7 linked regions of the Homo sapiens genome follow. The protein of the gene in region 7 interacts with the protein of the main gene of each other region in a biochemical or structural test. Each region holds a gene or a part of one and is shown on either strand. Other genes may lie near its edges.

Region 1 (4,255 bases), on a different chromosome or scaffold from region 7:
ATGTTTGAATCAAGCACTTTGTCTGATGGTCAAGCTATTGCAGACCAAAGTGAAATAATACCAACATTGGGCCAATTTGAAAGGACTCAGGAGGAGTATGAAGACAAAAAACATGCTGGTCCTTCTTTTCAGCCAGAATTCTCTTCAGGAGCTGAGGAGGCATTAGTAGACCATACTCCCTATCTAAGTATTGCTACTACCCACCTTATGGATCAGAGTGTAACAGAGGTGCCTGATGTGATGGAAGGATCCAATCCCCCATATTACACTGATACAACATTAGCAGTTTCAACATTTGCGAAGTTGTCTTCTCAGACACCATCATCTCCCCTCACTATCTACTCAGGCAGTGAAGCCTCTGGACACACAGAGATCCCCCAGCCCAGTGCTCTGCCAGGAATAGACGTCGGCTCATCTGTAATGTCCCCACAGGATTCTTTTAAGGAAATTCATGTAAATATTGAAGCGACTTTCAAACCATCAAGTGAGGAATACCTTCACATAACTGAGCCTCCCTCTTTATCTCCTGACACAAAATTAGAACCTTCAGAAGATGATGGTAAACCTGAGTTATTAGAAGAAATGGAAGCTTCTCCCACAGAACTTATTGCTGTGGAAGGAACTGAGATTCTCCAAGATTTCCAAAACAAAACCGATGGTCAAGTTTCTGGAGAAGCAATCAAGATGTTTCCCACCATTAAAACACCTGAGGCTGGAACTGTTATTACAACTGCCGATGAAATTGAATTAGAAGGTGCTACACAGTGGCCACACTCTACTTCTGCTTCTGCCACCTATGGGGTCGAGGCAGGTGTGGTGCCTTGGCTAAGTCCACAGACTTCTGAGAGGCCCACGCTTTCTTCTTCTCCAGAAATAAACCCTGAAACTCAAGCAGCTTTAATCAGAGGGCAGGATTCCACGATAGCAGCATCAGAACAGCAAGTGGCAGCGAGAATTCTTGATTCCAATGATCAGGCAACAGTAAACCCTGTGGAATTTAATACTGAGGTTGCAACACCACCATTTTCCCTTCTGGAGACTTCTAATGAAACAGATTTCCTGATTGGCATTAATGAAGAGTCAGTGGAAGGCACGGCAATCTATTTACCAGGTAAGATCACAACATTGATAAATCTGTTTCCAAACCTGGAAACAGTCCCTTGGTGCTAACGTTTATATGTATGTAATTTTTATTGTGATGTTAAATCAATGGAGAGTTTCATATTATTCACATAACAGCAGGCCAGGCCACAGTATTGAGTTCATAATGAGATGAAATGACAGTAAGTATAGATTAGTTTTGGACTTTAGAAGTAGACTTTGTATTTTTCTGGGTTTTAGAAATAATATACAATTACAACATGGAAAAGATGAAATTATTAATGTTATAAAAATTCAATTTGTTTTTACTCACAACTAGAGTATTGCTTTGTCATATGTCTCATAGTTATACATGTTAGGTTTAAAAGTAGAAAAAAAGTCCTATTTTTAAAAACCCTCCCATTGATGGATGCTATTGCTGTAGTATCAAAATCTGTCAGGCCTTTAACATTTGGGAGTAGTACGTAGCTCTAATAATTATTTCAGAGTTTGTGCAGTATCAATATCAGCTCATACTTATATGCAATGTCCTTGTTTAAGACAGTCTACATAATGCATCAAACACAGTGCCTACCAGTAGTGAGTAGTCATTTATTATATAAACATACTGCCTGTTGAGAGAAGTTTTCTGTGTATTTACTGAATGTATGGAAAGCATGAATTTGATACTGATTCATATAAGCCATCTCTTCTGATTGCCACGAAAAGGCTATAAAAGCCCTGTGTGAAAGGGTAAGAGGTGAAGGTTCAGAGAGGTTCAGCAACTTGCCCAAGGTGGCACAGCCACATTGTGGTAAAAGTAGGATTTGAACCCAGCTTAGCTCCACTCTAAAGTCCATAGTCTTTTCACTGCTCTTTGCTGGTTTCAGTATAGTATAAAAATAAACAATTGATATTGAATAATATATGAACCAGGAATCTTGGAATATTTACTTTGTAGAATTTATTTTCCTCTTAATCTAGCCTGAGAATGTTAAGAAATCAGCTCTAATGGTGTTTTCCCATAATGTTATTATTTAAATTAACAATGTCAGTGGAATCCACAAATAGACATCACCACCTAGCTGCTACCTGCAAAAAGAGGAAGAAAAATCAGTACTTTAATGTCTGTCTTGGTTGAGAATATATGTTTTATTTTAATATGTTTTATGCCATGACTATCGTTAAAATTATTCTTCTGATCATATCAATATTACCTTTTGTGCCACCAATGCTTTATTTTGATGTGCTTCAGAAAGAGTAAAATAGAAAGTACAATTTTTAATAAATGGCTTGAAATATTTTGAGGAAAATTGATCAAAGGTAGTTGACATTGGGTTTTTTGTTATCACTGTGTGTTAAATCTGTAAATGATAATCTAGTAATTTGGCTAATATTTATTGTTTTTTAATTTAGTTTAATATACTTCAGTTTGTTAAAAATATGATGTAAAAATAACTGGTAATAACTAGGTACATATAGAGTTAAGTTTGATGAATGAGAAATATGTACCAATTTTCCAGTTTACAATATTTACCAAGATTTATAGTTTGCGTCTTCATTGCAAAACAAATGGTCACTTTAGCTTAATTCAGTAAACAGCAGCTCATATGGGATTACCTGGTCTATCTGTTGCAGATTCAACTTTCAGAGGTTAATACGAACTGTTTAGGGGAGAATAACATTCATAAAAACTGAAGTTTCCTGTTAATTGGAACGACTTCCAGTTCACAGGAAGACTCACTCACTCAGTCCTTGTTTCATGGTCTCAGCATGGTGTCTAGTGTCAGTGGTAGGAATAGTAATAGTACTTCTTCACATTTGTGTGGCACATCACAGTCTGATAAAGCACTTTCACCTAGTGTCATTTGGATTCAGCACAGAGGGCAGCATGTGGCTATGGCGTGTGTTAACTGCAGCCTTGTCATCCTGGCAGCGAGCGTACTTGTACTTTAAAATTCAGAAAGCTAAAATTGTTAGGGAGATTTCAAATAGTTTTGGAACTATAGGAAAAAGTGTCTTAGAAAACTCGGGGGAGTTTTTGGAGAAGTTGATGTACTCATCTGAATTAACCTAATTTTAACGTGAATCCCAAACATGGGAATGTGTACCTATCCAGGTTTATAGTCATTCAGAATTTACTTAACACTCAGAAAGTTTGAGTTTGACTTTCTGGTGTGGGGAAGTCTCAGTTATCTTTTATAGCAGTACCTTGTTTATCCTGATATTCTTTAAGCTAATGTTTCATAAGAAGTTAGACATCTTTCTTCTTTCATGTGTAATTATTTCAGGGTTTCAGGACTTAAGATTCTTGAAAGTATGGGTGTATTCCATAGATAATCTATTTTATTTCAATTATTTTGTAAAACTTTCAACTCTCATTTGGATCTTTGAAGATTTAGAAATGTAAGCAAGTCTGAAACAATATACAAAGAATAAGTATAAACTCAATGAAAATACACTTATCCAAGCAATATTGCAATATAAAATATATGCTTCAAGTGGTGTAAAAGTGTTTGCACTTAGAAAATATATTTAAACTGTTTGTCCTCATAAATTTATGTCTTCGGCCTTCATATTTATCTCCCAGGAGTGTCGGTTTTATTTGTATTTTAATAAGAAAATTATAATAAAAACTTGGGGTTTCATTTTAGGTGAGGTTTTTGTATTTGGGTTTGTTTTTCTACAGTAGAGTTTAATCCATGTGTTGCTTTTCTTCAAGTATAGTTTAAAGGAGTACATTTGGAACGTGTTTTTGGAAAAAGCATGTTAATGTAGCAGAAGAGACTTCAGTGCACACTTTCGAAGAAAAACAGTTTCTGAGCATTAAGTGGTAAAAGGCAATAATAATTCAAATGATGATAACAAGCCAACCTGCTAAAAAGAATGCATGTTCTGTGTATCCAGCCATTTCACATGAACTAACCCCATTTAAAAGAATACATTTTCCATTCACTGTGCACATATGTGTAATCATTTTTGACTAAAATCAATTGCCATTATCATGCCAACTAAATCTGCAGTAGAATATATTAGTTGCCAGATACAGTACAAAAAATATCATTTAAGAGTAATCGTGATTGAATCCCAGAAATGAATAGATGCAATTTGTAACAATTAGTTATAATGCCAAGAAACACTCCAGAGAGTAAAGTTAATGTTAATTTTTATATGT
Region 2 (4,255 bases), on a different chromosome or scaffold from region 7:
ATCGCCATTCTAACTGGTGTGAGATGGTATCTCATTGTGGTTTTGATTTGCATTTCTCTGATGGCCAGTGATGATGAGCATTTTTTCATGTGATTTTTGGCTGTATAAATGTCTTCTTTTGAGAAGTGTTTGTTCATATCCTTTGCCCACTTTTTGATGGGGTTGTTTGTTTTTTTCTTGTAAATTTGTTGGAGTTCATTGTAGATTCTGGATATTAGCCCTTTGTCAGATGAGTAGATTGCAAAAATTTTCTCTCATTCTGCAGGTTGCCTGTTCACTCTGATGGTAGTTTCTTTTGCTGTGCAGAAGTTCTTTAGTTTAATTAGATCCCATTTGTCAATTTTGGCTTTTGTTGCCATTGCTTTTGGTCTTTTACACATGAAGTCCTTGCCCATGCCTATGTCCTGAATGGTATTGCCTAGGTTTTCTTCTAGGGTTTTTATGGTTTTAGGTCTGACATGTAAGTCTTTAATCCACCTTGAATTAATTTTTGTATAAGGTGTAAGGAAGGGACCCGGTTTCAGCTTTCTACATATGGCTAGCCAGTTTTCCCAGCACCATTTATTAAATAGGGAATCCTTTCCCCATTGCTTGTTTTTGTCAGCTTTGTCAAAGATCAGATAGTTGTAGACATGCGGCATTATTTCTGAGGGCTCTTTCCTGTTCCATTGGTCTTGGTATCAGTTTTGGTACCAAGTACCATGCTGTTTTGGTTACTGTAGCCTTGTAGTATAGTTTGAAGTCAGGTAGCATGATGCCTCCAGCTTTGTTCTTTTGGCTTAGGATTTACTTGGCAATGTGGCCTCTTTTTTGGTTCCATATGAACTTTAAAGTAGTTTTTTTCAATTCTGTGAAGAAAGTCATTGGTAGCTTAATGGGGATGGCATTGAATCTATAAATTACCTTGGGCAGTATGGCCATTTTCATGATATTGATTCTTCCTACCCATGAGCATGGAATGTTCTTCCATTTGTTTGTATCCTCTTTTATTTCCTTGAGCAGTGGTTTGTAGTTCTCCTTGGAGAGGTCCTTCTCATCCCTTGTAAGTTGGATTCCTAGGGATTTTATTCTCTTTGAAGCAATTTTGAATGGGAGTTCACTCATGATTTGGCTCTCTGTTTGTCTGTTATTGGTGTATATGAATGCTTGTGATTTTTGCACATTGATTTTGTATCCTGAGACTTTGCTGAAGTTGCTTATCAGCTTAAGGAGACTTTGGGCTGAGACGATGGGGTTTTCTAGATACACAGTCATGTCATCTGCAAACAGGGACAATTTGACTTCCTCTTTTCCTAATTGAATGACCTTTATTTCCTTCTCCTGCCTAATTGCCCTGGCCAGAACTTCCAACACTATGTTGAATAGGAGTGGTGAGAGAGGGCATCCCTGTCTTGTGCCAATTTTTAACGGGAATGCTTCCAGTTTTTGTCCATTCAGTATGATATTGGCAGTGGGTTTGTCATAGATAGCTCTTATTATTTTGAGATATGTCCCATCAATACCTAAATTATTGAGAGTTTTTAGCATGAAGTGTTGTTGAATTTTGTCAAAGGCCTTTTCTGCATCTATTGAGATAATCATGTGGTTTTTGTCTTTGGTTTTGTTTATATGCTGGATTACATTTATTGATTTTCGTATGTTGAACCAGCCTTGCATCCCAGGGATGAAGCCCACTTGATCATGGTGGATAAGCTTTTTGATGTGTTGCATAAATCTTTCCATACATATTTATAACTTCTTTATGCCTTTTGAAAAATTCAATACTGTAAATGGGACTTTTTTAAAAGTGGGGATAGAGTTGTTAGCTGAAAAATCTGAATAGCTGGCAATGAAGTTTGGAATTTGAAAAATGAGAATCGCAAGCCAGAATGGATTTTGACCTCCTTCATGTGATATAACTTCTATTTAGTATTTATTCTATTTATTTTCTAAATGCAGATATTTTTGTTATATATTATCTCTCTTTTTTTTTTGTTTTATAAAAAGTAACCTTACCTACATAAGAAAGTATATCCAATTGACCAATCTTCCACCATTCCATTTTTTCTACATTCACAGGACTTAGTAGCCATGAAGGTCCTCATCCTCGCCTGCCTGGTGGCTCTTGCTCTTGCAAGGGAGGTATGTGCACAAGAAAAAATTCCTAAACAATCAATAAATAGTGGACTATATGCTTATTTGTAGAGAATAACATCACCAACATTTTTTACTGTATAAATAATGAAGAATTTCATGAGAATTCTCTTGGCTTCTATCAAAATCATTTATATTTACCCACTGTCTCAACAGTTTCCTATAGTGCCCCAAATGCTTCCTGCACCAATGTGCTGCTAGTCACTAAAGAAAAAGCAAACAAATCAATAAGTAATAAAAAATCATAAAAATGGCAACGAAATATAATATTGCATAAATACAACTCCAAAGATTCTCAAGCTAGATAAATATATCTTATTCCAGTGATAAAATGTATATATACCTTACAGCCTAGGGCACTGGGTCAAATCCTGTGTCTGTCTGTACAAAGACATCCATGGGATGAAGTACAGAGACAATCATAATCATGATCATAAATATATTAATAATAATATAATAAAAATATTTAATACAAATTAAAGTGACTCTTCTTTTACCCATAAAAAACTCTGTCTTTAATAAATGTAAGATAAAAATATATTAATAGATTACTAAATATAAAAGACATTAAAGTAATTACCTTTTAAACCTCAAAAGTCATATAACATTTTTTATTTCTCAAATTTGTGAAAGAGATAGCTCTGCATAAGTGATGTAAAAATTAAGTAGGATGCATGTTTAACAATGAGTTAGCTATAGAAGTTGAATTTTTAAACATCTTTTCAGAAGGAACAATCCAATGCATCCTCTGAGGTGAGATTATTTTTTTAGAGAAAATTTATGAACCATAAAATAGTAAAATTCTCTAATGATCTAGAAGATTTAGCTGGTTGTCAATTTTTTTTTCCCACAGACCATAGAAAGCCTTTCAAGCAGTGAGGTAAGTTAACATTCTACCCAATTTTAGAACAGTAAAATCCTGTGCTATTTTTCTATGGTGTTACATCATGGCAGTTAAGCTAATGCAGCTATGTTAATGACATATAAGTTCTAGTACATATTTCTTTTATGTGTGTTTAAGGACAATAAGTATCTGGATAATACAACATTCTAGAACTTTGTAAATTGGCTTGCTACTTGAAATTGTGTTATTTTGCTTCTTTTTTTTTTAATGAACCATATTGTCCTGTTTTCTGCCTTGAACTCTCTTTACTCTGAACTTATTCACCTTAAGCATATACTGACGGCCTTCTATGGGTCAGACATTGACTAGGAGCTGTGGTACAAACTGAAAAGTTAGAGATGCCAGTGATAGTTAAGAGCTTGCTAAGTAGTAGGTAGGCAGACGTGCAAAAAGGACACATTTTATAATTACAATAGCCACTTTAGTAAATAAGCGAGATTTAGTGTAGTCCTAAATTTACCTGAGAGAGTCAGGTAGATATTTATTCTTACACCACTCTTCTTGGGTGTGTGATCACTTGATAAGTAAATGGTACATCAATAGATTCTGTCTCTTCAGAAAGGTTATATGATCCTTAAGGGAAGTGTTTAACTCTTATGATTCATTTGAAGTGATCATAATGTATCAATTGTTATTAGAATATATTTTCAATGAGTATTTCTTTTTTTAAAAATCAGATGGGGTTTTAGATATCATTTGTTGTCAGGGAATGAGCATGGTGGTAGAGAGAAATTAGCATCTATTAATTGCTTTTTTTTGTACCATGTCCTTCTTGACTGCATTCATCTGACTTTCTTTTACATAACAAGCTCATATAGAACAGTTTAATACATAAGTTTAATGATTATACAAAGTTATTAATGATATTATCAAAGAATTAATGCCTTTATTTCCTGATTTATATTGCAAAGTAAGAATTGTTAAAACTAAACCTAATTTTATTTTATATTTTTCTGTAGGAATCTATTACAGAATACAAGGTAAATTTTCACATTTAAAATGTACACATTTTCAAAATTTCCTCCTTTTAATCTTTACAGATGGTAACATATCTTTATATATGATATATCTTTAGCAGAAAGTTGAGAAGGTTAAACATGAGGACCAGCAGCAAGGAGAGGTAATTTGTTAATGATAAGTATATGTTTAAAATTATTATAAAGTATAATACATACAAAAATATTTATAATGTGTATGTTGATTCTAAAGAATGATAAT
Region 3 (5,051 bases), on a different chromosome or scaffold from region 7:
CAAAGTATATGTGAGAGTGACAAAGGCCTGAATTTGTCAATTAGTAACAATTGTATTCAACAGTAAGGATTTTATGTTTGGGTAGGCCTTTCCCAGGGACTTCTACAAGGAAAAAGCTAGAGTTGGTTACTGACTTCTAATAAATAATGCCTACAATTTCTAGGAAGTTAAAAGTTGACATAATTTATCCAAGAAAGAATTATTTTCTTAACTTAGAATAGTTTCTTTTTTCTTTTCAGATGTAGGTTTTTCTGGCTTTAGAAAAAATGCTTGTTTTTCTTCAATGGAAAATAGGCACACTTGTTTTATGTCTGTTCATCTGTAGTCAGAAAGACAAGTCTGGTATTTCCTTTCAGGACTCCCTTGAGTCATTAAAAAAAATCTTCCTATCTATCTATGTATCTATCATCCATCTAGCTTTGATTTTTTCCTCTTCTGTGCTTTATTAGTTAATTAGTACCCATTTCTGAAGAAGAAATAACATAAGATTATAGAAAATAATTTCTTTCATTGTAAGACTGAATAGAAAAAATTTTCTTTCATTATAAGACTGAGTAGAAAAAATAATACTTTGTTAGTCTCTGTGCCTCTATGTGCCATGAGGAAATTTGACTACTGGTTTTGACTGACTGAGTTATTTAATTAAGTAAAATAACTGGCTTAGTACTAATTATTGTTCTGTAGTATCAGAGAAAGTTGTTCTTCCTACTGGTTGAGCTCAGTAGTTCTTCATATTCTGAGCAAAAGGGCAGAGGTAGGATAGCTTTTCTGAGGTAGAGATAAGAACCTTGGGTAGGGAAGGAAGATTTATGAAATATTTAAAAAATTATTCTTCCTTCGCTTTGTTTTTAGACATAATGTTAAATTTATTTTGAAATTTAAAGCAACATAAAAGAACATGTGATTTTTCTACTTATTGAAAGAGAGAAAGGAAAAAAATATGAAACAGGGATGGAAAGAATCCTATGCCTGGTGAAGGTCAAGGGTTCTCATAACCTACAGAGAATTTGGGGTCAGCCTGTCCTATTGTATATTATGGCAAAGATAATCATCATCTCATTTGGGTCCATTTTCCTCTCCATCTCTGCTTAACTGAAGATCCCATGAGATATACTCACACTGAATCTAAATAGCCTATCTCAGGGCTTGAATCACATGTGGGCCACAGCAGGAATGGGAACATGGAATTTCTAAGTCCTATCTTACTTGTTATTGTTGCTATGTCTTTTTCTTAGTTTGCATCTGAGGCAACATCAGCTTTTTCAGACAGAATGGCTTTGGAATAGTAAAAAAGACACAGAAGCCCTAAAATATGTATGTATGTATATGTGTGTGTGCATGCGTGAGTACTTGTGTGTAAATTTTTCATTATCTATAGGTAAAAGCACACTTGGAATTAGCAATAGATGCAATTTGGGACTTAACTCTTTCAGTATGTCTTATTTCTAAGCAAAGTATTTAGTTTGGTTAGTAATTACTAAACACTGAGAACTAAATTGCAAACACCAAGAACTAAAATGTTCAAGTGGGAAATTACAGTTAAATACCATGGTAATGAATAAAAGGTACAAATCGTTTAAACTCTTATGTAAAATTTGATAAGATGTTTTACACAACTTTAATACATTGACAAGGTCTTGTGGAGAAAACAGTTCCAGATGGTAAATATACACAAGGGATTTAGTCAAACAATTTTTTGGCAAGAATATTATGAATTTTGTAATCGGTTGGCAGCCAATGAAATACAAAGATGAGTCTAGTTAATAATCTACAATTATTGGTTAAAGAAGTATATTAGTGCTAATTTCCCTCCGTTTGTCCTAGCTTTTCTCTTCTGTCAACCCCACACGCCTTTGGCACAATGAAGTGGGTAACCTTTATTTCCCTTCTTTTTCTCTTTAGCTCGGCTTATTCCAGGGGTGTGTTTCGTCGAGATGCACGTAAGAAATCCATTTTTCTATTGTTCAACTTTTATTCTATTTTCCCAGTAAAATAAAGTTTTAGTAAACTCTGCATCTTTAAAGAATTATTTTGGCATTTATTTCTAAAATGGCATAGTATTTTGTATTTGTGAAGTCTTACAAGGTTATCTTATTAATAAAATTCAAACATCCTAGGTAAAAAAAAAAAAAGGTCAGAATTGTTTAGTGACTGTAATTTTCTTTTGCGCACTAAGGAAAGTGCAAAGTAACTTAGAGTGACTGAAACTTCACAGAATAGGGTTGAAGATTGAATTCATAACTATCCCAAAGACCTATCCATTGCACTATGCTTTATTTAAAAACCACAAAACCTGTGCTGTTGATCTCATAAATAGAACTTGTATTTATATTTATTTTCATTTTAGTCTGTCTTCTTGGTTGCTGTTGATAGACACTAAAAGAGTATTAGATATTATCTAAGTTTGAATATAAGGCTATAAATATTTAATAATTTTTAAAATAGTATTCTTGGTAATTGAATTATTCTTCTGTTTAAAGGCAGAAGAAATAATTGAACATCATCCTGAGTTTTTCTGTAGGAATCAGAGCCCAATATTTTGAAACAAATGCATAATCTAAGTCAAATGGAAAGAAATATAAAAAGTAACATTATTACTTCTTGTTTTCTTCAGTATTTAACAATCCTTTTTTTTCTTCCCTTGCCCAGACAAGAGTGAGGTTGCTCATCGGTTTAAAGATTTGGGAGAAGAAAATTTCAAAGCCTTGTAAGTTAAAATATTGATGAATCAAATTTAATGTTTCTAATAGTGTTGTTTATTATTCTAAAGTGCTTATATTTCCTTGTCATCAGGGTTCAGATTCTAAAACAGTGCTGCCTCGTAGAGTTTTCTGCGTTGAGGAAGATATTCTGTATCTGGGCTATCCAATAAGGTAGTCACTGGTCACATGGCTATTGAGTACTTCAAATATGACAAGTGCAACTGAGAAACAAAAACTTAAATTGTATTTAATTGTAGTTAATTTGAATGTATATAGTCACATGTGGCTAATGGCTACTGTATTGGACAGTACAGCTCTGGAACTTGCTTGGTGGAAAGGACTTTAATATAGGTTTCCTTTGGTGGCTTACCCACTAAATCTTCTTTACATAGCAAGCATTCCTGTGCTTAGTTGGGAATATTTAATTTTTTTTTTTTTTTAAGACAGGGTCTCGCTCTGTCGCCCAGGCTGGAGTGCAGTGGCGCAATCTCGGCTCACTGCAAACTCCGCCTCCCGGGTTCACGCCATTCTCCTGCCTCAGCCTCCCGAGTAGCTGGGACTACAGGCGCCCGCCATCACGCCCGGCTAATCTTTTGTATTTTTAGTAGAGATGGGGTTTCACCGTGTGCCAGGATGGTCTCAATCTCCTGACATCGTGATCTGCCCACCTCGGCCTCCCAAAGTGCTGGGATTACAGGAGTGAGCCACCGCGCCCGGCCTATTTAAATGTTTTTTAATCTAGTAAAAAATGAGAAAATTGTTTTTTTAAAAGTCTACCTAATCCTACAGGCTAATTAAAGACGTGTGTGGGGATCAGGTGCGGTGGTTCACACCTGTAATCCCAGCACTTTGGAAGGCTGATGCAGGAGGATTGCTTGAGCCCAGGAGTTCAAGACCAGCCTGGGCAAGTCTCTTTAAAAAAAACAAAACAAACAAACAAAAAAATTAGGCATGGTGGCACATGCCTGTAGTCCTAGCTACTTAGGAGGCTGACGTAGGAGGATCGTTTGGACCTGAGAGGTCAAGGCTACAGTGAGCCATGATTGTGCCACTGCACTCCAGCCTGGGTGACAGAGTGAGACTCTGTCTCAAAAAAGAAAAAGGAAATCTGTGGGGTTTGTTTTAGTTTTAAGTAATTCTAAGGACTTTAAAAATGCCTAGTCTTGACAATTAGATCTATTTGGCATACAATTTGCTTGCTTAATCTATGTGTGTGCATAGATCTACTGACACACGCATACATATAAACATTAGGGAACTACCATTCTCTTTGCGTAGGAAGCCACATATGCCTATCTAGGCCTCAGATCATACCTGATATGAATAGGCTTTCTGGATAATGGTGAAGAAGATGTATAAAAGATAGAACCTATACCCATACATGATTTGTTCTCTAGCGTAGCAACCTGTTACATATTAAAGTTTTATTATACTACATTTTTCTACATCCTTTGTTTCAGGGTGTTGATTGCCTTTGCTCAGTATCTTCAGCAGTGTCCATTTGAAGATCATGTAAAATTAGTGAATGAAGTAACTGAATTTGCAAAAACATGTGTTGCTGATGAGTCAGCTGAAAATTGTGACAAATCACTTGTAAGTACATTCTAATTGTGGAGATTCTTTCTTCTGTTTGAAGTAATCCCAAGCATTTCAAAGGAATTTTTTTTAAGTTTTCTCAATTATTATTAAGTGTCCTGATTTGTAAGAAACACTAAAAAGTTGCTCATAGACTGATAAGCCATTGTTTCTTTTGTGATAGAGATGCTTTAGCTATGTCCACAGTTTTAAAATCATTTCTTTATTGAGACCAAACACAACAGTCATGGTGTATTTAAATGGCAATTTGTCATTTATAAACACCTCTTTTTAAAATTTGAGGTTTGGTTTCTTTTTGTAGAGGCTAATAGGGATATGATAGCATGTATTTATTTATTTATTTATCTTATTTTATTATAGTAAGAACCCTTAACATGAGATCTACCCTGTTATATTTTTAAGTGTACAATCCATTATTGTTAACTACGGGTACACTGTTGTATAGCTTACTCATCTTGCTGTATTAAAACTTTGTGCCCATTGATTAGTAACCCCTCGTTTCGTCCTCCCCCAGCCACTGGCAACCAGCATTATACTCTTTGATTCTATGAGTTTGACTACTTTAGCTACCTTATATAAGTGGTATTATGTACTGTTTATCTTTTTATGACTGACTTATTTCCCTTAGCATAGTGCATTCAAAGTCCAACCATGTTGTTGCCTATTGCAGAATTTCCTTCTTTTCAAGGCTGAATAATATTCCAGTGCATGTGTGTACCACATTTTCTTTATCCATTAATTTGTTGATTGATA
Region 4 (4,255 bases), on a different chromosome or scaffold from region 7:
TTGCTACAAAGAGAATAAAATACCTAGGAATACAACTTACAATGGATGTGAAGGACCTCTTCAAGGAGAACTACAAACCATTGCTGAAGGAAATAAGAGAGGACACAAACAAATGCTCATGGATAGGAAGAATCAATATCGTGAAAATGGTTGTACTGCCCAAAGTAATTTATAGATTCAATCCTATCCCCATCAAGCTACCACTGACTTTCTTCACAGAATTAGAAAAAAACTACTTTAAAGTTGGGAACCAAAAAAGAGCCCATATATCCAAGACAATCCTAAGCAAAAACAACAAAGCTGGAGGCATCACGCTAACTAACTTCAAACTATACTACAAGGCTACAGTAACTAAAACAGCATTGTACTGGTATCAAAACAGATATATAGACCAATGGAACAGAGCAGATGGCTCAGAAATAATGCCACACATATACAGCCATCTGATATTTGACAAACCTGACAAAAATAAGCAATGGGGAAAGGATTCCTTATTTAATAAATGGTGCTGGGAAAACTGGCTAGCCATATGCAGAAAACTGAAACTGGATCCCTTCCTTACACTTCATACAAAAATTAACTCAAGATGGATTAAAGACTTAAACATAAGACCTAAAACCATAAAAACCCTAGAAGAAAACTTAGGCAATACCATTCAGGACATAGGCATGGGCAAAGGCTTCATGACTAAAACACCAAAAGCAATGGCAACAAAAGCCAAAATTGATTAATGGGATCTAATTAAACTAAAGAGCTTCTGCACAGCAAAAGAAACTATCATCAGAGTAAACAGGCAACCTACAGAATGGGAGAAAATTTTTGCAATCTGTCAATCTAACTAAGGGCTTATACCCAGAATCTACAAGGAACAGATACAAATTTACAAGAAAAAAACAACCCCATCAAAAAGTGGGTGAAGGATATGAACAGACACTTCTCAAAAAGAAGACATTTATGCAGCCAAAAAACATATGAAAAAAAGCTCATAATCACTCGTCATTAGAGAAATGCAAATCAAAACCACAATGAGATACCATCTCTCACCAGTTAGAATGGCGATCATTAAAAAGTCAGGAAACAACAGATACTGGAGAGGATGTGAAGAAATAGGAACGCTTTCATATTGTTGGTGGGAGTAAATTAGTTCAATCATTGTGGAAGACAGTGTGGCAATTCCTCAAGGATCTAGAACTACAAATACCATTTGATACAGCAATCCCATTACTGGGTATATACCCAAAGGGTTACAAATCATTCTACTATAAAGATGCATTCACACATATGTTTATTACAGCACTGTTCACAATAGTAAAGACTTGGAACCAACCAAAATGCCCATCAGTGATAGACTGGATAAAGAAAATATGACACATATACACCATGGAATACTATGCAGCCATAAAAAAGGATAAGTTCATGTCCTTTGCAGAGACATGGATGAAGCTGGAAACCATCATTCTCAGCAAACTAACACAGGAACAGAAAACCAAACACTGCATGTTCTCACTCATAAGTGGGAGTTGAACAGTGAAAACACATGGACACAGGGAGGGGAACATCATATACCAGGGCCTGTCAGGGGCTGGGGGACTAGGAGAGGGATAGCATTAGGAGAAATACCTAATGTAGATGATGGGTTGATGGGTGCAGCAAACCACTATGGCATGTGTATACCTATGTAACAAACCTGCACATTCTGCACATGTATCTCAGAACTTAAAGTATAATTAAAAAAAAAAAAAAACGGCAGTGATCCTGAGCTCTGGGGAGACTGCAATGAGCAGAGCCCTCCTGCCAACTTGTATTGGACTTGTAGCAGGATTGCAAAATTGACTTCTGTTTCTTTAAGCCACTGAGATTTAGCATTATTTCTTACTGTAGTATCAGCTAATAGCTACCTTTTTCTCTATTCAATAGCACTTGTGCCCTCCACCTACAAATTTCAACTCTGATTCTACAGCAGTGATTCTGGGGCCTAGCTGCACATCCAAATAGATCTTGGAGCTTTAAAAACATCCTGATGCCCAGACTTCACGCCAGACCAATCACATCAGAATTTACTTGATTGGAAGCTGGCATTTGGTATGTTTTTTAAAACCCCAGGCAATTTTGTTGTGCTGCTGCCAGGGCTGAGGACCACTGTCATAATAATGGGGACCTGAGAAAGCTCTGTCAGTTGCCAGAAGTCGTTAAGCTTCCTATTATGAGGACTTGCCATAGGACACAAATAAGCCCAAAGATTACAGTACATTTTCTGCTTGTAACAGCTATTCCTACTTGTACGGACTTTGAAGTGATTCAGTTTCCTCTACGGATGAGAGACTGGCTCAAGAATATCCTCATGCAGCTTTATGAAGCCAACTCTGAACACGCTGGTTATCTAAATGAGAAGCAGAGAAATAAAGTAAGTTATCCACAGGTTAGCTTCTTCAATGTCTGTCTACAGGGCATGAGGAAGAAAGACGTGGTGGGGGGGCTACCTACCTCTGCATACTGGCAAAAGCCCACTATGCTTCCCCATGCCCGGTTAGCCCATGTGGCTTAACAGAATAATAGATGTCACCATTCACGCCACAAGGTTTCAGACACCACCAAACCGCCCCATTCTTCCCAATGGTCAGTGGCCTGAATTAGGGCTCTTCAATTCCTACCTAGAGCAAGCTCTGGTTGAGCAAAGTTAATATAAATTTAGCATTGATCTAGTCAGTCCAAACATCTTATTTAAATCTAAGCATTTGTTTTGTTCTCATAGGCCAGACATAGATGTATGATATAAAGTAAATCCATTACTCAAAATATCAGTAATATATTAAGATTAAAAAGCACAGAACATTGATTCCAAAAGCTTCCAGAGAAAATTCATTCACCAGATAGTTATTGAGTGTATCCTGGGTGCCAGAAATTGACCTAAATACTGGAGATACAGCAACGAAAAGAAAATCTCTGCCTTCATGAGTTTACATTCTGGGTGAAGAGACAGACTCTAAACAAATAAGTATATATGTGTGTGTGTATGTAATGTTTGTATATGCATATATTTGTACATACATATATATGCATATATGCAATTATATATAGTAAAATGAGCATTTATGTAAATATAACCAAATCAGCAAATATATGTATAAGTATGTCAGTTGGGATTAAACATGGTGTGAAGACAAATAAAACAAGAAGGAGGGTGTGCATTAACTGTGTCAGATGCTGTTTATAGGTTATGAGTTGAAGACTGAGAATTGGCCAGGGATTTAGCATGTCAAAGTCATAGCTGACCTTGATAGGAACTGTTCCTGGGGTGGGAGCATGTTTCAGGAGGGAAGCTCCAGTGGACAGAGTTCAACAGAGACTAGGAGGAATGGATGCAGCAAGTATAGACAATCCTTTCAAGGAGTTTTGCTATGAAGAGATAAAGAGAAATGGGGTGGCAGCTGGAGTGGAAAGTGAGTACAAGAGTCCCACCTAGCAGTGGGAGATGGTAGAGGATGTTTGCACGCTTCTGGAAATAACCCAGTCAAGAAGGAAATGTTAGTGGGGAGCAGAGAATGCGCACAACTGCCAGAGGGCGTTCTTCGATACATGTCCCACCCAGAGGAGAGGGATTGGACTTAGGTTAGGAGCACAGGAAGGTCGCAGGGAGCAAAGTTGTGGTTCTGGGAGCAGGTGGAGGTCCTGTTTGCTTCCAATTACTCAGTGAAATAAGAGGCAACATCACAAGCTGAGAGTTTCACAGGCACTGCTCAAGAATAATTTCTAGCCCCCGTCTTGAATACCTTGTCACAGAGAGCCTTGAGGGTATTAGCTATGAAACAGGGAAATTTCAATGGGGCTGGCCAAGCAATAACACACCAGGGTGAAAGCAAGACTGAGTGGGCACTGGATGGATGACCTAGAAGACTAAGAGTGGACTCTGTCATCGGGGGAAGGAGCAGCACTTTTCACTAACTAATCACCTTAGTCAATTCAGCCCTTTTCATTAAAACCTCATAGTTTAAAAAAAAAAAAAAAAAGCAGCGAACATTACTTGGTTAAAAGAAAGAGGCAAAACATACTTAAAATATTTAAAAGTTTAAAAAAGAATTTAAATTTCTTCTAAAAACCAGAGGTTTCTTACATCAGGTGCTATTCTGTGTAGACATGAGAAAGGCCTGTAGTATTGATTGGAAGGAATTTCATTTAGTTGCACATGATGTCCTGAGCTTGTTTTCCCCTATCGTGTTACTGTCACTCTTCAAGTAAAGTTTATAGCAAGTGACAA
Region 5 (3,202 bases), on a different chromosome or scaffold from region 7:
CACCACGCCCGGCTAATTTTTTGAATTTTTGGTAGAGACAGGGTTTCACCGTATTAGTCAGGATGGTCTCAATCTCCTGACCTTGTGATCCACCCGCCTTGGCCTCCCAAAGTGCTGGGATTACAGGTGTGAGCCACCACACCGAGCCAAAACTGCATTTCTTAATCCTTTAACCTTTCCTTGTGCAGGAATGAGGCAGATGAGCTCCGTAAAGCTCTGGACAACCTTGCAAGACAAATGATCATGAAAGACAAAAACTGGCACGATAAAGGCCAGCAGTACAGAAACTGGTTTCTGAAAGAGTTTCCTCGGTTGAAAAGTGAGCTTGAGGATAACATAAGAAGGCTCCGTGCCCTTGCAGATGGGGTTCAGAAGGTCCACAAAGGCACCACCATCGCCAATGTGGTGTCTGGCTCTCTCAGCATTTCCTCTGGCATCCTGACCCTCGTCGGCATGGGTCTGGCACCCTTCACAGAGGGAGGCAGCCTTGTACTCTTGGAACCTGGGATGGAGTTGGGAATCACAGCCGCTTTGACCGGGATTACCAGCAGTACCATGGACTACGGAAAGAAGTGGTGGACACAAGCCCAAGCCCACGACCTGGTCATCAAAAGCCTTGACAAATTGAAGGAGGTGAGGGAGTTTTTGGGTGAGAACATATCCAACTTTCTTTCCTTAGCTGGCAATACTTACCAACTCACACGAGGCATTGGGAAGGACATCCGTGCCCTCAGACGAGCCAGAGCCAATCTTCAGTCAGTACCGCATGCCTCAGCCTCACGCCCCCGGGTCACTGAGCCAATCTCAGCTGAAAGCGGTGAACAGGTGGAGAGGGTTAATGAACCCAGCATCCTGGAAATGAGCAGAGGAGTCAAGCTCACGGATGTGGCCCCTGTAAGCTTCTTTCTTGTGCTGGATGTAGTCTACCTCGTGTACGAATCAAAGCACTTACATGAGGGGGCAAAGTCAGAGACAGCTGAGGAGCTGAAGAAGGTGGCTCAGGAGCTGGAGGAGAAGCTAAACATTCTCAACAATAATTATAAGATTCTGCAGGCGGACCAAGAACTGTGACCACAGGGCAGGGCAGCCACCAGGAGAGATATGCCTGGCAGGGGCCAGGACAAAATGCAAACTTTTTTTTTTTTCTGAGACAGAGTCTTGCTCTGTCGCCAAGTTGGAGTGCAATGGTGCGATCTCAGCTCACTGCAAGCTCTGCCTCCCGTGTTCAAGCGATTCTCCTGCCTTGGCCTCCCAAGTAGCTGGGACTACAGGCGCCTACCACCATGCCCAGCTAATTTTTGTATTTTTAATAGAGATGGGGTTTCACCATGTTGGCCAGGATGGTCTCGATCTCCTGACCTCTTGATCTGCCCACCTTGGCCTCCCAAAGTGCTGGGATTACAGGCGTGAGCCATCGCTTTTGACCCAAATGCAAACATTTTATTAGGGGGATAAAGAGGGTGAGGTAAAGTTTATGGAACTGAGTGTTAGGGACTTTGGCATTTCCATAGCTGAGCACAGCAGGGGAGGGGTTAATGCAGATGGCAGTGCAGCAAGGAGAAGGCAGGAACATTGGAGCCTGCAATAAGGGAAAAATGGGAACTGGAGAGTGTGGGGAATGGGAAGAAGCAGTTTACTTTAGACTAAAGAATATATTGGGGGGCCGGGTGTAGTGGCTCATGCCTGTAATCCGAGCACTTTGGGAGGCCAAGGCGGGCGGATCACGAGGTCAGGAGATCGAGACCATCCTGGCTAACACAGTGAAACCCCGTCTCTACTAAAAATACAAAAAATTAGCCGGGCATGGTGGCGGGCGCCTGTAGTTCCAGCTAACTGGGCGGCTGAGGCAGGAGAATGGCGTGAACCTGGGAGGTGGAGCTTGCAGTGAGCCGAGATATCGCCACTGCACTCCAGCCTGGGTGACAGAGCGAGACTCCATCTCAAAAAAAAAAAAAAAAAGAATATATTGACGGAAGAATAGAGAGGAGGCTTGAAGGAACCAGCAATGAGAAGGCCAGGAAAAGAAAGAGCTGAAAATGGAGAAAGCCCAAGAGTTAGAACAGTTGGATACAGGAGAAGAAACAGCGGCTCCACTACAGACCCAGCCCCAGGTTCAATGTCCTCCGAAGAATGAAGTCTTTCCCTGGTGATGGTCCCCTGCCCTGTCTTTCCAGCATCCACTCTCCCTTGTCCTCCTGGGGGCATATCTCAGTCAGGCAGCGGCTTCCTGATGATGGTCATTGGGGTGGTTGTCATGTGATGGGTCCCCTCCAGGTTACTAAAGGGTGCATGTCCCCTGCTTGAACACTGAAGGGCAGGTGGTGGGCCATGGCCATGGTCCCCAGCTGAGGAGCAGGTGTCCCTGAGAACCCAAACTTCCCAGAGAGTATGTGAGAACCAACCAATGAAAACAGTCCCATCGCTCTTACCCGGTAAGTAAACAGTCAGAAAATTAGCATGAAAGCAGTTTAGCATTGGGAGGAAGCTCAGATCTCTAGAGCTGTCTTGTCGCCGCCCAGGATTGACCTGTGTGTAAGTCCCAATAAACTCACCTACTCATCAAGCTGGACTTGTTCGAGTCATTCTTTGGTCTCTCAGCTCTTTCCAAGCTTTGGGGGCCATCAGTCTCAAGTTTTTCTCGTAATGGTGGTGATGGTGGTTGTGATGGCAGCAGAGTGGTGGGGGCCTTGGCAAGTGGTCGGTGCTCTTCCAGACCAGGGGACACCGATGGACCGATGAAGTTCCAGGGGAACTTGAAGTGCTGTGTTGGAAAGAGGTTAATTTGGGAAGAAAGGAAAAATGAAAGGAGATGCCAGGAACAGGTCAAGGAACCTTGAGGTGTGTCCAGGAGTTCAACCCCGCTTGTGGTCACGAGACCTCGCCTCTCTGAGCCTCAGTTTCCTCATCAGCTGTAGAAGGGTACCTGGACAAGGTGATGTCTCAGGTCCACCCAGCTCTCCCCATCTTGTGTCCTGGAGACTTGGGTCCAATCAGCACTGACTGATGGCTGTGCCTTTGTGGTGCCGATGGAGGCTCCCCTGGGCTCTGGGTGCCTGACTTCCCTTCCTCATGATCCTTCTTCCAGGGTCTCGGGAAACGAGGCTTCCATGGCCCCTCCTGCTTGCTCACTGGACTCTCACTTTCCCAGCTGGTCATTTCCCTGAGACCTCAAAACCCCACCAACCCCACTGGGGCACCCACA
Region 6 (4,255 bases), on a different chromosome or scaffold from region 7:
TCATCCATTTGGTGAGAAATTTGGTTGAGTATGGCAAAAAGAAGATCATTAGACACATTGTATGCCTGTATCAAAATATCTCATGTACCCCATAAATGTATATACCTCCTATGTACCCATAAAAATTAAATTTTTTAGTTTAAAAAAACAAGATTATATTAGAGTTCATGCTACTTTTTAAATGCTCCAGAGAGTGTCAGAAAAAAAAAATGGTGAATGCTTATTTCCTGAGCCAGATTTGATATTTTGATTCTTGGTAACTTTTTTTTTTTTTTTTTTTTTTTTTTTTTTTGAGACGGAGTCTGGCCTCTGTCGCCCAGGTTGGAGTGCAGTGGCGCAATCTCGGCTCACTGCAAGCTCCGCCTCCCGGGTTCACGCCATTCTCCTGCCTTAGCCTCCCGAGTAGCTGGGACTACAGGCGCCCACCACTACGCCCGGCTAATTTGTTGTATTTTTAGTAGAGACGGGGTTTCACCATGTTAGCCAGGATGGTCTCGATCTCCTGACTTCGTGATCCGCCCGCCTCGGCCTCCCAAAGTGCTGGGATTACAGGCGTGAGCCACCGCGCCCGGCCTCTTGGTAACTTTTAAGTCAGTTAGTGCCTCAAGGCTACCTTTTTAATGATTTGCAAAGCAAGTTTATACATTACTATTCTTTTCCTTTTTTACTTAAAATATTTTGTATTTCAGAGATTTAACTCCTATGAAACAGGAAACAGCTATGAAATAGGATTTCTCAGGAGTCCAGATTGATCAGAAAAGGGTCTGGTGGCACAGCAGGAAAGAAATCACTTACCAAGTGACCGATCATAAAATTGTTCACTTATGGACTCGTCTGAAATGAGACCTGTAACACAGTAATAATCATAAGACAAGACTCCTCTCACTGTTCCAGAATGTTCTATGACTTTACTGTTAATGCCACAAATATGCTTCTTAAGCAAAGAAGCAGTGAGAGATCACCATTGAGTTTTATTGCCGTCAGCACTAATAGGAAAAATGCCTCCTAAATCATAGAACACTAACCCAACCCACTTTGTATTAAAAGCCACACAAGAAAAGAAAGAAGGAGAGCCCTTCCTCCCTGAACTAAGACATTCAAAGAGATGATCAGATCTAGTTGTATGGCTGAAAGACGATAGAATTCAGACTGTTTACTCCTGATCCTCCCAGCTAGACATTCTTAAGGGGAAAACCAACACTGGCTCCGCTTACTTGGCAGAGATGTTGGGGCCATCAAATGGAATTATGTATGGAAAAGCTCTGTTGTGAATACAAAGGAATATCTAAGTGAATAGTTGTATCATTATTACCTAGTGATAAAAAATAAGCAAAAGCAAAACAAAATGTTAATTTTCTATGGCTGTAATTGTTGCAAGATTACATACATATGTATTTCTAGTTTTAAATGACTCACTAACAAAGAGTTGCAATATGGAGTTATTTTAAGAAAAAAAGTTAAAAAGAACAGATCTTAACTTACCAAATAGATAATTGTTTCTCCATTTATGAGATCCCAACATGTCCCCAAAAATCATCTAAAGAAATTCAGGCATCAGGATGTGTCAGCACATGAAAGAAAGAAAAAGGAAAGACACTGAAAAATGTAAATGTCATCTGGAAGACTCTGATATATGTTATATAATCCATTTTTAATGAAATAGGCAATACGTTATATTAAATAACTTTATATATATCAAACATATAAGTCTAAAAAAGCACATGGGGAAGAGCAAACTACGTGAAGTTTAAATTACCCACAGATCTTTCCCCTAGACTGAGAATGTACTCCCAAACATTGCCGGCTTCCAGAAAAGCAAAACCCTGTTACACAGACTTGCACACAGACTAAGTTTAGATCGAATTTTAGAGGTTTCTCTCTATAAAGTCACTGTAATATGTTCAGTAGGAAAAGGTGTCCACAAGAAGTTTTCATGAAACCACTAAAAGTCCATGCAATCATCACAAAGTAAAGTGGTTGCTTGGCTCGCAGTCTTTCTACCAAGAGTCTTGGTAGGCTGTCCTCCCTGTCCTGAACAGTCAGGTAATTTCTTGGCCTCCATCACAGTAGTTGGACTGGGAAGGGACACATACCAAGACAATTTAAGAGAGAAAGAACATTCTTTTCAACAGATAGTGCTGATACTACCAGATATGCACATGCAAAAGAATGAAGTCAAACCCCTTCCTCACAACATATGCAAAAATCAAGTCAACATGGATCATAGACCTAATGTAAGACTACAGAAACAACAAAACAAAAAATAGATAAACTGGAGTTCATCAAAATTTAATTTTGCTCTTCAAAGGGCACCATCAAGAAAGTAAAAGACAACCCATAGAGGGGGAGAAAATATTTCAAAACAACTAAATAAAAAGACAAATAGTGCAATTAAATCATAGGCAAGGATTTGAATAGACATTTCTTCAAAGAAGATGTATAATGGCCAATCATTAGTCGTTAGAAAAATGTAAATTAAAACCACAATGAGAGCTAGGCACAGTGGTTCATGCCTGTAATCCCAGCACTTTGGGAGGCAAGGCAGGCAGACTAGCTGAGGCCAGGAGTTGGAGACCAGGCAGGCCAACATGGCAAAACCCCGTCTCTACTAAAAATACAAAAATTAGCCATGCATGGTGGCACGCACGTGTAGTCCCAGCTTCTTGGGAGGCTGAGGCACTACAATTGCTTGAACCCAGGAGACAGAGGTTATAGTGAGCCGAGATTGTGCCACCGCACTCCAGACTGAGTGACAGAGTGAGACTCTGTCAACAACAACAAAAAAAACTACAATGAGATACCACGTCACACTCACTAGAATGGCTAAAATAAAAAAGACAGGCACCAACAAGAACTGACAAAAATGTATAGAAACTGAAATCCTCATACATTACTGGTGGGAATGTAAAATGGTACAGCTGCTATGGAAATAATGTGGCAGTTCCTCAAAAAGTTAAACATAAAGTCACTATACGGTCATTAAACATAGAGTTACTATATGATCCAGGAATTCTGTTTCCAAGAGAATTAAATACATGTGTACACAAAAACTTGCACATGAATGCTTCTAGCCTCATTATCTATGATAGCCAAAAAGGGAGAAATAAGCAAAATGTCGATCAATGAATGAATGGATCAATCAAATGTGGCTCTGTAAAACGGAACAATACAAAGGAATGAAGCATTGATGCATGCTACAACATGGATAAACCTCCAGAACATTATGCTAAGTGAAACAAGTCAGTCACAAAAGAATACAGGCTGTACGATTCCATTTGTATGAAATGATCAGAATGGACAAATCCATAGACACACAAAGTAGATTAGTGGTTGCCAAGTGTTAGGAGGAATGAGGAATAGAGAACAACTGTTACTGGGGTCTCTCTCCCGCGTGATAAAAGTGTTCTGGATTTAAATGGTGGTGGCAGTTGTGAATATGCTAGAAACCACTGAACTGTACATATTAAAAGGGTGAATTCTATGGTATGTAAATTATATCTCCACCAAAATGTATTTTTAAAGGGGGGTATCAAAACATCACATTGTACACAAGTAAATATATAAAATTTAAAATAAATTAATAATAAAGTTATATGTATAAAAGAACAAAAAGAGGGGACACCTAAGCCAGGCCAATAGAGGGAATACCAAGAGGTTTCTCTAACTGGCAGCAGAGAGAAATGCCTCTTTTCCCTCCTAAGTACAGAGGACATAAGTCTGGAGTAGCTTGAGGCTTTACTTCCTGCTGCAAGGGGAAAGCCTCTCTGCAGCAAGGGTGGACGTGGAGTGCAGAAGGCACAGTGACAGAGAGAGAGAGAGAGACAGAGGAAGGAGGAGAAGATGGAGGAGGCTCAGAGAAGGAAGGAGAAGGAGAGGGAGAGGGAGGAGGAAAGGGAGGAAGAGAGAGAGAGAAAAGGGAATGAGGGGGAGAAGGAAGAGGGAGGGGCAGAGGGGAGGGGAGGCCAGGAGAGAAGGGGAAGGAGAAGAATGTGGCACATACAGGACTGAAGGACTCTAAGTCGAGTTGTCCCTGAAGCCAACTTCTCTCCTTCCTTTCTGGGAATGTGATCCAGGGAATTACCTCTTTTTGGCTTAGACTACTTCTAGTTGAATATCTATCTTTTGAAATGAAAGGCAGTAAATAAATTAAATGCCCGTCACCCCTCCCGTAAGCTCAGAATTCCTGTCATCATTCTTCTTCAGTTTCTCTCTCTTATTTTGGGTCTCGTGTCGGAAACCCTAGCTGACTTCATCC
Region 7 (3,457 bases):
GCAGGGTGGACCCACTGCCCGGGATGCTGGAGATGGGTGGGGTGGACCCACTGCCTGGGGTGCTGGAGATGGGTGGGATGGACCCACTGCCTGGGGTGCTGGAGATGGGTGGGATGGACCCACTGCCCGGGGTGCTGGAGATGGGCTGGGTGGACCCACTGCCTGGGGTGTCGGGTACAGGCAGGTGGACCCATGGCCCAGCTCCCAGCCCAGCAGCCTGTTAGGAACCTTGTACAGGGGCCCTTGACAATTCTGCTTTTCTTCTGGAAGGTTTGGGAAGTATTCGCACGACGAGCTCTCCATCCTGGTGCCGCTACAGCAGTGCTGCAGGTACAGCCCCTGCCGGAGCCGGCTCCAGCTCCACCCTCCTCCCTACTGCGCAGGAGACAGAGGAGGCCACAGCCTTCCCCACCCCACCCCGGCCATCACATGGGAGAGAAAAGGCCCCGAATTCAACCACAGCCCTGAATTCAACCCACACCCTCACTCGGCGGCCTGGAGGCGCAGACCTCACCCGCCCACCACCCCAGGCCCATCCAGCTCGAGCCCCCTCGGGCCTCCACTCTGTGTCCGTCCTGCCACCCCAGTTACAGAGAGAGCTCGAGGCCAGGGCAGACGCCAGCTGAGACACAGGGACCCTGCTCCCGCACGCAGCTGCCGGTCTCTGCCACTGCCACCTTCTGCGGGGGTTCAGACCCCCTTTCCCCCGTTTCATGGCTGGGGACGCAGGCTTGCAGGGCAAACGCTTTGTACTTCTCTAAGGAGGCATCACAGCGCCCGTGTTGTGCGGATGTGCTGAGCTGGGGTCGGTCTCCTGGGTGAGTGGGCCGCCCTCCTCACCTCCCCATCCTCCTGGGTGAGCGGGCCGCCCTCCTCACCTCCCCATCCTCCTGCCGGGCCCCTCTGGGAAATACACCGGCCACCACATCCTGCAAGGGCACCCTCATCCCTTGTGCAGGTGAGAGGCGGCAGACCACGCCGAAGCAGGTCACACAGCCCGGAGGCTGATGAGGTGTTGGATCGCAGGCCCCTCTCTCGCGGTCTCTCTCGTCTCTGCCGTCTCTATCTGTGTCTGTCTCTGTCTCTCTCTCTGTCTCGGTCTGCCTGTTTCTCTTTATCTGTGTCTCTTTCTGTCTGTCTGTCTCTGTCTGTCTGCCTTTCTCTCTCCCTCTCTTTCTCTCTGTGTCTCTCTTTCTCTGTGTATGTCTCTGTCTTTTTCTCTCTGTCTCTGTCCCCCTCTTTCTCTCTCTGTCTCTCCCCCCACTCTCTCGATCTCCCTCTCACTTTCTCTCGCTTTCCCGTGGGCAGGCATCTCCCCTGTCCCGTGCCAGGCCTGATGCCCCTCTCCTCCCCAGGATCCGGAAGTCCACCTACCTGCGTCTGCAGCTCCTGGCCAAGGAGGAGTACAAGCTGAGCCTGCTGATGGCCGAGTCTCTGCGGGGGGACCAGGTGGCACCCGTGCTGTACCAGCCGCACCTGGAGGCCCTGGACCGGCGGCTCCGCGTCGTGCTAAAGGCCGTCCGGGACTGCGTGGAGAGGAACGGGCTCCACAGCGTGGTGGATGACGACCTGGACACTGAGCACAGAGCCGCCTCGGCGAGGTAGTGTCCGCCGGCCGCTGCGCTGCCCGGGACGGAGACAGAGGCGCCGGACCTCCCAGCAAGCGCATGCGCCCGTCGTGAATTCAGTGAATTCAGAGGCAGGACGGGATCATCCGGAGTCGGGAGCTGCTGCCACAGGAGGCGAGGCTCCCCAGGTCTCATAGGACACATTTTGTCAGTGTTTGACCAGAAAAGCTTGGGAAGGAAGCGCTGTCTGTGCTCACGGACAGAGGCGGCCGGCGCCGGAGGCATTCCATCCTTTCTGTAGGGAAAGGAGCCTTTATTTACTATTTTGTATTTATATTTGATGAATAAGTATATAAACAGAGACGTGTACACAGATGCCAATCACCTACCAAACCAAACACGAGGACCGCCCTCCCTGGTTCTGGGGGCCCCTCAAGGCCAAGCTCACCCCTCAAGTGCTCTCACACTCGGGACCTAATTCAAGTAAAAACCCTTTCTCCTTCCTGGGGCCTCGGCTCCTGGAGGGCTGGAGGGTCTCGTCTGAGGACGGGAGGAGGCTCTCGCTGGACGTCTGGCCTGTGCGCTGGTGGACGGATGCCTACGTGGTTTTGGAGGACCCGATGACCAGGCGTCCTGCGAGTCCGCCCGCTGGCCTGCAGCACCCACCTCGGACTTGGCTGTGGACGGTTGGTGCAAGTGCATCCTGCAGGGCTGGCTGTGCGCAGCTGTGGGCTGACCTTTGCAGAGTTTTGTGGAATAGTTTGCAATGTCATAAAAGTGCAATAAAGGTACAGCAGATGTGTGTCGGCCTCACGGGGCGGGTCCCTCACACCCTGGTGTGTGGCTGCCTGTCCACCCCCTCTCCAAAGAAAAACCAGTCCTGGAACCAGGCATGGCCAGGAGTCGGCATTCAAGGTGGCCTGGACCCGAGGCCTGCTGGGGTCGGAGGGGGCTGCCTGCCAAGCCCTGGTGCAAACAGGCCAGGTGGGGCCCCACCTCCAAGGCAGGGCGGTCCGTCCTGGGTTGCTCTCAGAGGCTGGGGCCGCGACCCAAAGCTGCGGCGGCCCCGAGGGCAGCCCCTGTCTGTAGCCCTGGCATGGGCAGCTTCCAGTGTTCCAGCAGGACTGGGCAGCCATGCGTGGGGCAGCTGCCCCGGGGCTGTGGTGAGTGAGGGGCACCGTGAAGGGTGCCAGCCCCTTCCCACTGCTGGCCTCGGGGCTGCAGAGATGGGGCTGGGCTCCCAGGCCAGCATCTCCCCTGCTGGCACCATGTGAGGGGCAGAGGCAGGAGCCAGCATGCTGGCTACCACCTGCCCAGCGTCACACGGCCCAGGAGCCCTAAGAAATCAGCTGTGGGGCCGGTCACTGTGGCCCCCTCTTCTAAGAGCCTCTGCATCCACTCACCTGTCCGTTCCACAAAGTCCCTGACACCCATTTGAGCTGTGCCAGGCTGGGTGCAGCGGGGCCTGAGAGACTCAGCTCTGTCCTCATCACCGCCGCCTTGCAGAGCAGCGGGAGACGCACAGTAAATGCACAGATGGGTCACAAACAGGGCCCTGCACATGGCAAGGAAGTCGGCAAGGGCAGAGGATGCGCCAGGCAGACATTGCGTGTGGGGCAGCCAGGGAGGTGCTGTGGCCCCTTCATCCACTGGCTGGAGCCGGCCCCCCCATGTCTCTCTCTGTTTGGGACTGAACCAAAAGAGGTGATTAAGTGGCGGGAGGGTTCGGGTGGTCCCGGTCCAATCTGACAAGAGCCCTTATGAGGAGAGGAGACACAGGGACGGCCCCGTGAGGACACGGAGAGGATGACATCCACGAGCCACAGAGAGGCCTGGAGGAACCAGCCCTGCCGTGCAGTGACCTCGGACTCCAGCCTCTGGGACTGTCT

Evidence for each region.
Region 1: of the proteins of FAM20C (region 7) and VCAN, one has a biochemical effect on the other in vitro, tested with the Homo sapiens proteins (one large-scale study listed by IntAct).
Region 2: of the proteins of FAM20C (region 7) and CSN2, one has a biochemical effect on the other in vitro, tested with the Homo sapiens proteins (one large-scale study listed by IntAct).
Region 3: of the proteins of FAM20C (region 7) and ALB, one has a biochemical effect on the other in vitro, tested with the Homo sapiens proteins (one large-scale study listed by IntAct).
Region 4: of the proteins of FAM20C (region 7) and SPARCL1, one has a biochemical effect on the other in vitro, tested with the Homo sapiens proteins (one large-scale study listed by IntAct).
Region 5: of the proteins of FAM20C (region 7) and APOL1, one has a biochemical effect on the other in vitro, tested with the Homo sapiens proteins (one large-scale study listed by IntAct).
Region 6: of the proteins of FAM20C (region 7) and SPP2, one has a biochemical effect on the other in vitro, tested with the Homo sapiens proteins (one large-scale study listed by IntAct).

What each region holds. Positions count from the first base shown.
Region 1 is NC_000005.10:83,541,158-83,545,412, forward strand, and holds part of VCAN (versican core protein isoform 1 precursor), read left to right. Parts: coding exon 1-1,111; intron 1,112-4,255. UniProt on the Homo sapiens protein: May play a role in intercellular signaling and in connecting cells with the extracellular matrix. May take part in the regulation of cell motility, growth and differentiation. Binds hyaluronic acid.
Region 2 is NC_000004.12:69,958,811-69,963,065, reverse strand, and holds part of CSN2 (beta-casein isoform 1 precursor), read left to right. Parts: intron 1-2,058; 5' UTR 2,059-2,070; coding exon 2,071-2,121; intron 2,122-2,986; coding exon 2,987-3,013; intron 3,014-3,996; coding exon 3,997-4,017; intron 4,018-4,112; coding exon 4,113-4,157; intron 4,158-4,255. UniProt on the Homo sapiens protein: Important role in determination of the surface properties of the casein micelles.
Region 3 is NC_000004.12:73,402,467-73,407,517, forward strand, and holds the start of ALB (albumin preproprotein), read left to right. Parts: upstream 1-1,820; 5' UTR 1,821-1,861; coding exon 1,862-1,940; intron 1,941-2,649; coding exon 2,650-2,707; intron 2,708-4,162; coding exon 4,163-4,295; intron 4,296-5,051. UniProt on the Homo sapiens protein: Binds water, Ca(2+), Na(+), K(+), fatty acids, hormones, bilirubin and drugs. Its main function is the regulation of the colloidal osmotic pressure of blood. Major zinc transporter in plasma, typically binds about 80% of all plasma zinc.
Region 4 is NC_000004.12:87,480,573-87,484,827, reverse strand, and holds part of SPARCL1 (SPARC-like protein 1 isoform 1 precursor), read left to right. Parts: intron 1-2,267; coding exon 2,268-2,404; intron 2,405-4,255.
Region 5 is NC_000022.11:36,264,963-36,268,164, forward strand, and holds the end of APOL1 (apolipoprotein L1 isoform a precursor), read left to right. Parts: intron 1-188; coding exon 189-1,071; 3' UTR 1,072-2,563; downstream 2,564-3,202. UniProt on the Homo sapiens protein: May play a role in lipid exchange and transport throughout the body. May participate in reverse cholesterol transport from peripheral cells to the liver.
Region 6 is NC_000002.12:234,063,815-234,068,069, reverse strand, and holds part of SPP2 (secreted phosphoprotein 24 precursor), read right to left. Parts: intron 1,538-4,255; coding exon 1,483-1,537; intron 847-1,482; coding exon 796-846; intron 1-795. UniProt on the Homo sapiens protein: Could coordinate an aspect of bone turnover.
Region 7 is NC_000007.14:258,376-261,832, forward strand, and holds the end of FAM20C (extracellular serine/threonine protein kinase FAM20C precursor), read left to right. Parts: intron 1-270; coding exon 271-330; intron 331-1,355; coding exon 1,356-1,605; 3' UTR 1,606-2,397; downstream 2,398-3,457. UniProt on the Homo sapiens protein: Golgi serine/threonine protein kinase that phosphorylates secretory pathway proteins within Ser-x-Glu/pSer motifs and plays a key role in biomineralization of bones and teeth.